Linked DNA regions of Homo sapiens: region 2 is linked to region 1. Evidence: fine-mapped expression QTL. A gene starts in region 1. The other region holds a variant in brackets. All regions are shown on one strand. Distances are between the middles of the regions.

Region 1 (4,354 bases):
GCCCTCACCCGATTCCAGCTCTTGTGCGACTGATACTATTACACCTGCTTCCTGGTCCCTGGAGGGCGTGTCCCTCCCCCAGGACAAAACCTGGAGCTCTTCCAGCCCACCAGCTCTTAGGCAATAATCTCATCTTCCGGGATCACGCCCCTGACAAGCCAGGAAAAGCCAGCTATGACCTTGTACTCTCAAGTCCCTGGGGCAGGGAAGAGGTTTTATTTAAGTGATTAAAAGCCCAGGGGAGCTTCCTTGGAACAAGGAGTGGGTTCACACCAAGGGGAAGGCCAGTGGCCCTGGGGGAGGAGCAGGGACCCCTCTCTCTCTTACTCGCTTCCTGGGTTTAGAACTCAGGACCCCGATCTCAGTCTGGAGCTCCCTCCTGCACCCTGGCTGGCGGTGTGCTGGGTGACAGGACTCTGGAGGGGTACCCTGAGTGCAGCTGTCGGAGGAGGCAGGGCGGTGGGGGGGGCAGCACAGAAGCCTCTAAGGCCCCAGGTGCAGTCCTGGACCTCGTGGAGCCGCATGGAGTGAGGAGAGGTGCGGATGCCCAGAAACAGATGTGGGATGAGGGCACTGGGCAGCCACAGGGTCCATGTGGAGGAGGACAGGTAGTCAAGGAGGGCTTCTGGAGGTGGTGTGGAGGGCCCATCTGATGGCCAGAGGAGGCCAGGCAGAGCTGCCAGTGCCAGCCTGGAGGTGGGGCCACCTTCGTGCAGGTGTCTGGGGGTGGAGAGCAGGTGTGATGGGGGCTGGGTACAGTGGGCTGCCTCAGAGCACTTTGGGCAGGAGTGACAGGTACCCGCCAGCACCCTGAGCAGCCATGCTGGCCACCATCCTGGAAGAGACCAGCGCAGGTGCAGAGGGAGGACGGGAGACCCTTGGGGGCTTTGGAGCCTCCAGAATGGCTGAGGAGAGGAGGGTTGGGCACACTGGCCCCCAGGTTGGGTGTGTGGGGCTGAGGTGGGTGGCGGGTGACCACTTCTTAGGACTGTGGCCTGTGCAACCTGGCGGGGGGCAATGGGTTGCCATTCACTGACTTGGGGGAGCTGGGCCAGCAGTTTCCAGGTGACAGGCAGGAGTTTGGTTTTGGCTGTGGCGACTCTGAGATTCCCCAGGGGCCTCCAGGTGGATGTGCAGCATTGGCAGCGTCGGCCGGCAGGCGGGAGGGCCTCCCTGATATGCCCCGACCCGTGGTTGACAGGATCCCGCTGCACAAGTTCACGTCCATCCGCCGGACCATGTCGGAGGTTGGGGGCTCTGTGGAGGACCTGATTGCCAAAGGCCCCGTCTCAAAGTACTCCCAGGCGGTGCCAGCCGTGACCGAGGGGCCCATTCCCGAGGTGCTCAAGAACTACATGGACGTGAGTATGAGGTCTTAGCCCTGCTGCAAGCGGAGCCACTGTCAGGAGAGCTCCGTGGCAGTATGGGGAACATTCCCACCTCCTGTTCTCAGCAGCGCAGTTTGAGTGGCTCACCTGGCCACGGTGGCGTCCCGGCTCAGCCACACTCCTTTCTTCCCCATTCTGGAACCTCCTGCCACTGGCCCCTGTCATTGCAGGGTCTTGGTCCTGCTAGGGCCTGGGAGGGTGATTGGGAGTGGCCTCGGGCCTTGGTGCCAGCTCGCCTGAGGGGGCGGTCCTTGGGCCTGCCTGAGTGTGGCCGGCTGACCTGGAGCCTTTCACTGCTGTCCTGCTGGGAGGCCTGTGGTGACTCGTGGCCTCCCCAGCCCCTCCCCATCTTCTTCCTCTCGCAACAGCCCCTCCTGTGCCCACTACTCCTTCAGGGGGAAGCAGGATCCAAGGTGGAGCACTCTGGAAGCCACCTAGCAAGCTGGGGCTTGGTCAGCCTGGTCCCAGCTCTATGGGGTCAGTTCGAGGCCAGGGCCTACTGTCCAGCCTCGGGGCTCTGGCCCACTGTGGGGGAGCCTTGCCCTCTGTCCTGCTTGGCCCGAGTCCTGGCTGTGACAGGAAGCCCAAGACTCACAGGCATGTGACTGGGCCAGGGGGGCCCTGGGGGGAACCAGGCGCCGTGTGCCTGGTCCCGACTGGCCAGTTCCTGATTGTCCTAGCGCGCGAGCAAGCAGATGCACGCATGCGCACACATGCACACACACACATGGAAATTTGCTGAGTGTCCCCCTGCCAGTGGTCACTTCTGTGGGGCCATGAGTCAGCAGCTGCTGCTGCTCCGTGAAGCCAGGCGGTTGGAGAAACATTGGGCTGGGCTGGTGCCAGGAATCTGGTGGCTGACGGTGGCCCAGGCTCCAATCCTGGGGGAAGCGGGCGCCCAGGCGACCCCAAACTCCAGGACCCTCTTACTCTCTGCCTCCTGAGAGGCTCGGCGGCATGGGACCCCTTGTACTTGCCTGATCCCTGAGTCAGCACCCCCACCTGCGCCTGCTATCCCTGTGTACACACGGGGAAACTGAGGCCCTGGGCCATTAAGGCAGGGTTGCTGGGCAGGCAGTGATTGTAAGGCTTACCTTCTCCCCTTGACCAGCTGAACCCCTCTGCCTGGAAGCCCTCCAAGCCTGGGGTTCACCCTGGAGGGCAGGGCAGGCACTGAGACACCCAGAATCAGACCTTGACATGGCCCCAACCTGGGGAGGAAGTCACTTCCTTTCTCAGACCTTGGACTGCGGGCCACCAGGGGAGTCTTCCAGGCCGGGCTTTCCTGCACCCGGGGCTCAGGCTGAGGGCCACGTCTGTCCCCACCCTGGCTTGACCTCTGGCCTTGTCTTTTCCGTGGGGAAGTCCTCAGCCTCACCATGTATTGAGCAGGGGTAGGTGACAGAAGCCAGGGGTCTAGAGACCCCAAGTACCCGTGGGCATTAGGACCGAGGGCTGGGGACCTGGCCCATCTTCCCTGCAGGCTGAGCAGGTGGGAGTGGGTGGCTGTTGGCAGCTGTGGGCCCCGTGATGCCCCTCCCTCCAGTATGGGCCTTGGCTCTGGGGACAGCCGGGCCTTCTGAGGCCCAGTGGGGAGATGGGGCCCCCTCTCCCATCCCTGACGGACCCTGTCCCCTGCCAGGCCCAGTACTACGGGGAGATTGGCATCGGGACGCCCCCCCAGTGCTTCACAGTCGTCTTCGACACGGGCTCCTCCAACCTGTGGGTCCCCTCCATCCACTGCAAACTGCTGGACATCGCTTGCTGTGAGTCACGAACCCTGGCCCCGTCGCCCAGGTCCTGCCCTTCCGGGATGTCGCTGCAGGGCTGCCTCAGGAATCACTTGGGCAACGCAATTCTCCTGCCTCTTGGCCCCGTGAGCCAGGCCAGCCCTCCACCCTGCTCCAGCCACTGACTTTCTGGGTGAACCACCAGCTGTGGTCTTGCTCTCAGCAGGGCTGGGGCTGGGGTGGCCACAGAGGGAGCCGGCTGTGGCTGGGAGGGAGGCCCGGGGTCACAGCCCACAGTCCCGGGGCTCTGGCATGATGGTGGGCCTCAGATCCCCTCCAAATCCCACCCTGGGGAGGCAGCTTGGGGGGTGCGGGCTCCATGGTAGATTGTAGGGGGATGGGAGGGCTAAGGCCGTGGCGTGGGCTGCGGGATGACCGGCGGGCCCCCTTGTCGCCCGGGGCAGGGATCCACCACAAGTACAACAGCGACAAGTCCAGCACCTACGTGAAGAATGGTACCTCGTTTGACATCCACTATGGCTCGGGCAGCCTCTCCGGGTACCTGAGCCAGGACACTGTGTCGGTGAGTCCCTCTGGGGCCTTTCCCAGGACTCGAGGGTGCCAGGGTGTGGGGTTCACCCACCGTGGGTATGTGGTTGAAAGGGAGGGCTCGGTGATCCCAGCCCAACCCCAGCCCTCAGGTGGCCGGGGCAGTCAGCAGGGTGAGGAGGGGTCTGGGAATGGGCCTGGTTGTGTGCAGGCTGGAGGGACAGCCTCAAACCCAGGGGGTACAGGGGCAGGGGTCCCCGGAGTCAGGCCACAATGAGTGGGAGGGAGGACAGGGCAGATCGATCGGGCTCTTTTTGGCACATTGGGTTTGAGGTGCCAGCAGGTGTTGAGGGCTGGACCTGGGGCTGCACAGGGTCCCTGCAGCAGGCCGAGGGCTTGGGGAGGCTTGGGGTTGGGAGGATGTACCAGGAACCCGCTGTGGGGGCTGCTGGCGGAGAGTCACCGGCAGGAGCCTGGGAGGGCAAGGGAGGGGGAGCAGCAGTGGCTGTTGGGGGCCCCGCCTGCATCCACCATCCTCAGGGCCCTGTGCAGAGCAACTCCCTGCCCTAGGAGAGGGTGAGCTGGCCCTTGTCACCCTGCCTGGGCCTCAGTGAGTTCTCACCTCGGAGCTGTCTGCTGGGGGTGGACCAGGCCACAAGGGGTTCAGGAGTTACGGGATGGTGACAC
Region 2 (4,384 bases), 99 kb before region 1:
ATAGCCTCATGGAAATAAGTAATTCTTTCCTTGGGTCTTTATATATGAAAGCCTCATGGAAAGAAGTAATTCTTTTCTTATTTGAAAAGAGATGAGAGAAATGGGAGGAAGTGTTCCTGGAAGAGAGTGCAAAATTCCTGATTTAGTAGTGTCTACTCACACATCCGTCTTTCTAATAGTTTACTCAGCACGGATTCAATTGTCTATTGATTCATTATCTATCTATCTTTCTACTCATCTCTTGTTATATCCACCCACGTATCCATCTATTCATCTATTATCCATATCCATCCATATGTCTACTTCTCCTGACATCCTTCTATTAATCTTTCCAATCATTTATATGTCCATATTCCAGCCATCCAATCATCCACCCATACATAATTCCATCTCATGTGTCCTTCCATCAATACATTCATTTACCCATTTATACACCCATTCATCCATCATCCATTCATCCATAAATCCACTCATCTTTTGTTTTGGTACATTTGCTCATTTAGCTGTTGGGCTGATGATCAGCCAATATGCACAGGTACAACACAGTTCAATATAGGAATATATATAATCAGCACCCATTCCAGTAGATTCATATTTGTACCACATGCTTTGTTAAATATTCTAAATATCACATCTGCATTTATCTATCCACCCATCCATTCGTTCTTTCATCCAAACATCCATATATACATACAGATGTTCTTCTGTCCATCCATCTATTTTTTGTTCATCTGCTCATTTGTTCATCCATTCATCAATTACTAAATAATTCTTTCTATTTATGCATGAGTTATACTCTATTTATACATGAGTCCATCCAACCCATTCATTCATCCACCCCATCCATCTGCCCATCCATTCACCCACCTGTCCATCGATCCATGCACCTATCCATCCACTCATCCCTCCATCCATCCACCCATCCATCCATCATTCAATTATCCATCCATCCATCATTCAATTATCCATCCATCCATCCATCCATTTGTTCCTACTTCCTATCATTCTTCATTCATCTTTCCATTCATTCATACTGTTCTCCATAATTGATTCTTTTCTAATCTTTATTTTTCCTTTCTTATGCAACTAAGACATGGTTCATAAGCTCATGGCCCAAGGATAAAGCAGACCACCATGGCCCAGGAGGCTGAACACCTCAATAGAGCCTAAGCAGGGGCTACAGGGGCAGGGATCTGTCTTCATATTGACACATTCTCATCATCCCCGACACATACCTGCGAATGTATGTTCACAGAGCAGCATCCCAGTGAAAGGTGCTTTGAGCACTGAGAGAGCCCATGGGGACAGGGGAGGTCAGGGTGGTGGCCTCATTGGCTCCCGAGTGATCCCTGGTGGATAAATGTCTGTGATTTAAAGAGGAGGCAGCCTCCAAATGCTTGCAGCATGCATCTGTTCAGTGTGGCCCTCTGTTCAAGCAGGCACTGCTGACAGCAGGAGAATGGGCCAGAGCCACGGGTAGGGGGCAGGGTGGTGGGTCATGGGTGCTGGGGGCTGGGGGCTGGGGGCTGGGGGCTGGAGGCTGGGTGGTGAATGGTGGGTGCTGGGTGGTGGTGATGAAGCTCAGATTTTGGTTGGGACTGGGTCTAAGAGAAAGGCTAAAGGATTATTTCTAGATTCATCTGGAACGAATTGGCTAGATCCTTCTATCCCAAGTCCCATTGCTTTTCTGAGGGGAGGTACCTGGGACAGGAGGAGGAGGCAGCCTTGCCTCAGAAACCAAACTGTCAAAAGTGTAGGTTCCACTCAGGAAGGAGGAGCACAGGCACTTTTGAGATGAGGGGGACGTGCTCTTCTCTGGAGCAGAAAGAAGCAGTAGGTGAGGTCCCACCTGCCAGGGATGGAGCAGGAGAGTGACCCCTGCATAACCTTGAATCCTCATCTGCAGCCCATGAGCAGCTGGAGACTGGGGACTCTGGGAAGGGTACTGGGCTTAGAAGCCACCCCCTGCCCCAGTGGACAGAGTATCCTGGACACCTCAGCCACTCTCCCTGAGCGTGTGGTGTGTGTAGAGGCCCCTGCGTCTATACCACTGCTCCCAGGGAAACTGGGAACCCAGGAAGTATGCTGGAACCCTTCATGCTGTGACCTACAAATGCCCCACCAGAGCGGCCCTGCTCCAAGCACTGAGGTCAGGGGCCCATGTGCCTGCCTCCTCCTGCCGGGGGATACAGGGGACTCAGAGGCCCTCCCTGCCACAAACTCCCTTCCCCGACAACCCACAAGCAGCTTGGAGGCAGTTAGCAGATGGAGTTAGGATAGGACTTGCCTGGCCCCAAGAAAGGGCCAGGGGCTTTCCTCCTGCCACCCCTGCTCAGCATCTCCCTCCTCCCTTGTCTGCCTGTGTCTGGCACTGGTGGGGCCGTGCTGGGTGGGACACGGCTAGGAGGCCTGGCTTTCTCAATCCCCTAATCTCCTATCAACCCCACCCCCATGCAGCCCCTCCAACCTCTTTTCAGGTCCCTAGATGTTGGGGAGGGGATGGGGGCTGGGCC[G/A]GCTGTAGAGAGTCTAACCCTGGGGAAGGGGCCCTGCTGGGCTGCCCCCTGGCCGAGCCTCTCCAGCCCGCTCGCTTCCCTCTCTTCTAAGTATCAATACAGCCTCGTCCACAGCCAGGGCCTGGTTCTGTCTGCCTCAGCGCATGTGGAAAGCCCTCTTCGATTGCCTTATGGTCCTGGGCTGCCATCTCCCAGAAGGTCTTTAGTGGCCCCCAAAAAGATGCTGAGGGCTGGGATTTGGGCGGGGCTGGGCTGGAGGGAAGTGGAGGACCTTGCTGGTCCTGCAGCGCCCGGTCCCAGTTCCGCTTTTCGGGACGGTCCCTTTAAGTGCTTGCTGAGCTTGGGCCATGAGCAGTGCTCTGGTGCTCTTGGGAGCCTTTGAGTCCAGAGTGGCTGGTGTGTGGTGTGGGGTCAGAGAGACCCCGGGAAGGGCAGCCCAGCCCAGCTCCCTCCTGGTGCCCGCAGGTCTTGTGGGCCCTCAGCACCCGAACCCCACAGGGGCAAGGACTCAGGCCCCTCCCCAGGCAGGGAGCAGCCCTTGGACAATGCACTTGGCCCCTGTGAGCCTCGGTTTCCGTCTGTGAAATGGGAGGCTCCAGGGACCTGCCTCACAGCTCCGGGGGATGAAACAAGAGCCTTGGTTTAAAAAGCTTGGCAAAGGCAGGGCGCGGTGGTTCATGCTTGTAATCCCAGGACTTTGGGAGGCTGGGGCGGGTGGATCACCTGAGGTCAGGAGTTCAAGACCAGCCTGGCCAACATGGTGAAAGCCTCTTCTCTACTAAAAATACAAAAATTAGCCGGGGGCAGTGGCAGGTGCCTGTAATCCCAGCTACTCAGGAGGCTGAGGTGGGAGAATCTCTTGAACCTGGAGGGCGGAGGTTCCAGTGAGCCGAGATTGTGTCACTGCACTACAGTCTGGGCAACAGAGCGAGACTCTGTCTCAAATAAATAAATAAATAGCTTGGCAAAGACTGGCATGGAGTGAACGCTTGGTCTGAGTGGCTACATTCTGAGTGTGCAGATGGGGAAACTGAGGCTTCAGAGGGGTGCGGCTTACTCATCCAGAAAGCACTCCGAGGGCCTATAGCAGCCGAAGCAAGGCCAGCCCTGGGGCCTTGCAGCCCATCCCCCTCCCGCCGCCCCAGCAGTGGGATCTCAGGGGCTGGGACTGCAAGGCAGAGCTCACGCCCCCACCCCTCACCAGGCTGAGGACTCAGAGCGGGAGACCACTGGGCCCTTTCCACTGCCAACACCCTCCTCTTCTCTAGGGCTCACCCATCCCTCTGGCACGTTCTCAGGGAACTGAGGTGGAGACAGGCTGGCCCGTAGGGTAGCGGAGCAGAGGCCCACCATCCTGCCACCCCAGGGTGTCACCGGCCAGGGCCTGTCCCAGCTGGACCCCAGACCCTCCTGGCACTGCCCTTGTGTGGCTCCAGGATTGTTTTAGGAGACACGAGGGAACCAGGAAGGGGGCGCAGGAAGAAAGGATTCTGGCTTCCAGAATCAGCGGGGGTGGGGCCTGTGATGCTCCCACTTGTGCGACCAGCCCAGCTGGGTGTCGGTGGACAGCAGCGCCTGCCAGCCCACGAGGAAGAAGACATCCTTCTGCTTCCCTGGGAAACTTCCAGATGCCTCAGACCCCTTACCCAGGGCAGGAGGAAGGGGACCTCCCCAGGGATCCTGGGTCCAGACATCAGGTCTTGACCACAGGAAGGTGTAGGGAGGGAGCCCCAGGGCTTAGCCCTCAATCCTAACCTCCCTCAGCAGCCCCTGTGGGGCTAGGGCTGGGGCTGAGGTGGCTTCCCCAACTGTCCCCAGCTCTGCCCTCTTTCCTGAGCAGTCGTGGGCACCGCTGGGGGCTCTCAGGGCCA

Evidence for each region. PIP is the estimated chance that this variant, and not a neighbour inherited with it, causes the effect.
Region 2: its variant is the best candidate, but not a certain one, in a credible set for the expression of PRADX in whole blood (INTERVAL, PIP 0.57).

Annotation. Positions count from the first base shown.
Region 1 is chr11:1,758,316-1,762,669 of GRCh38, reverse strand. PRADX (PRC2 and DDX5 associated lncRNA) reads right to left here and starts at 2,322. Exons shown (of 2, transcript NR_182291.1): 1 at 1,476-2,322; 2 at 184-1,351. CTSD (cathepsin D) reads left to right here. Exons shown (of 9, transcript NM_001909.5): 2 at 1,202-1,361; 3 at 3,031-3,154; 4 at 3,583-3,701.
Region 2 is chr11:1,856,844-1,861,227 of GRCh38, reverse strand. All of the region lies in intron 1 of LSP1 (lymphocyte specific protein 1), which reads right to left. MIR4298 (microRNA 4298) reads left to right here and starts at 1,692; the gene lies at 1,692-1,764. The variant G/A (reference allele first, on the strand shown) is at 2,514.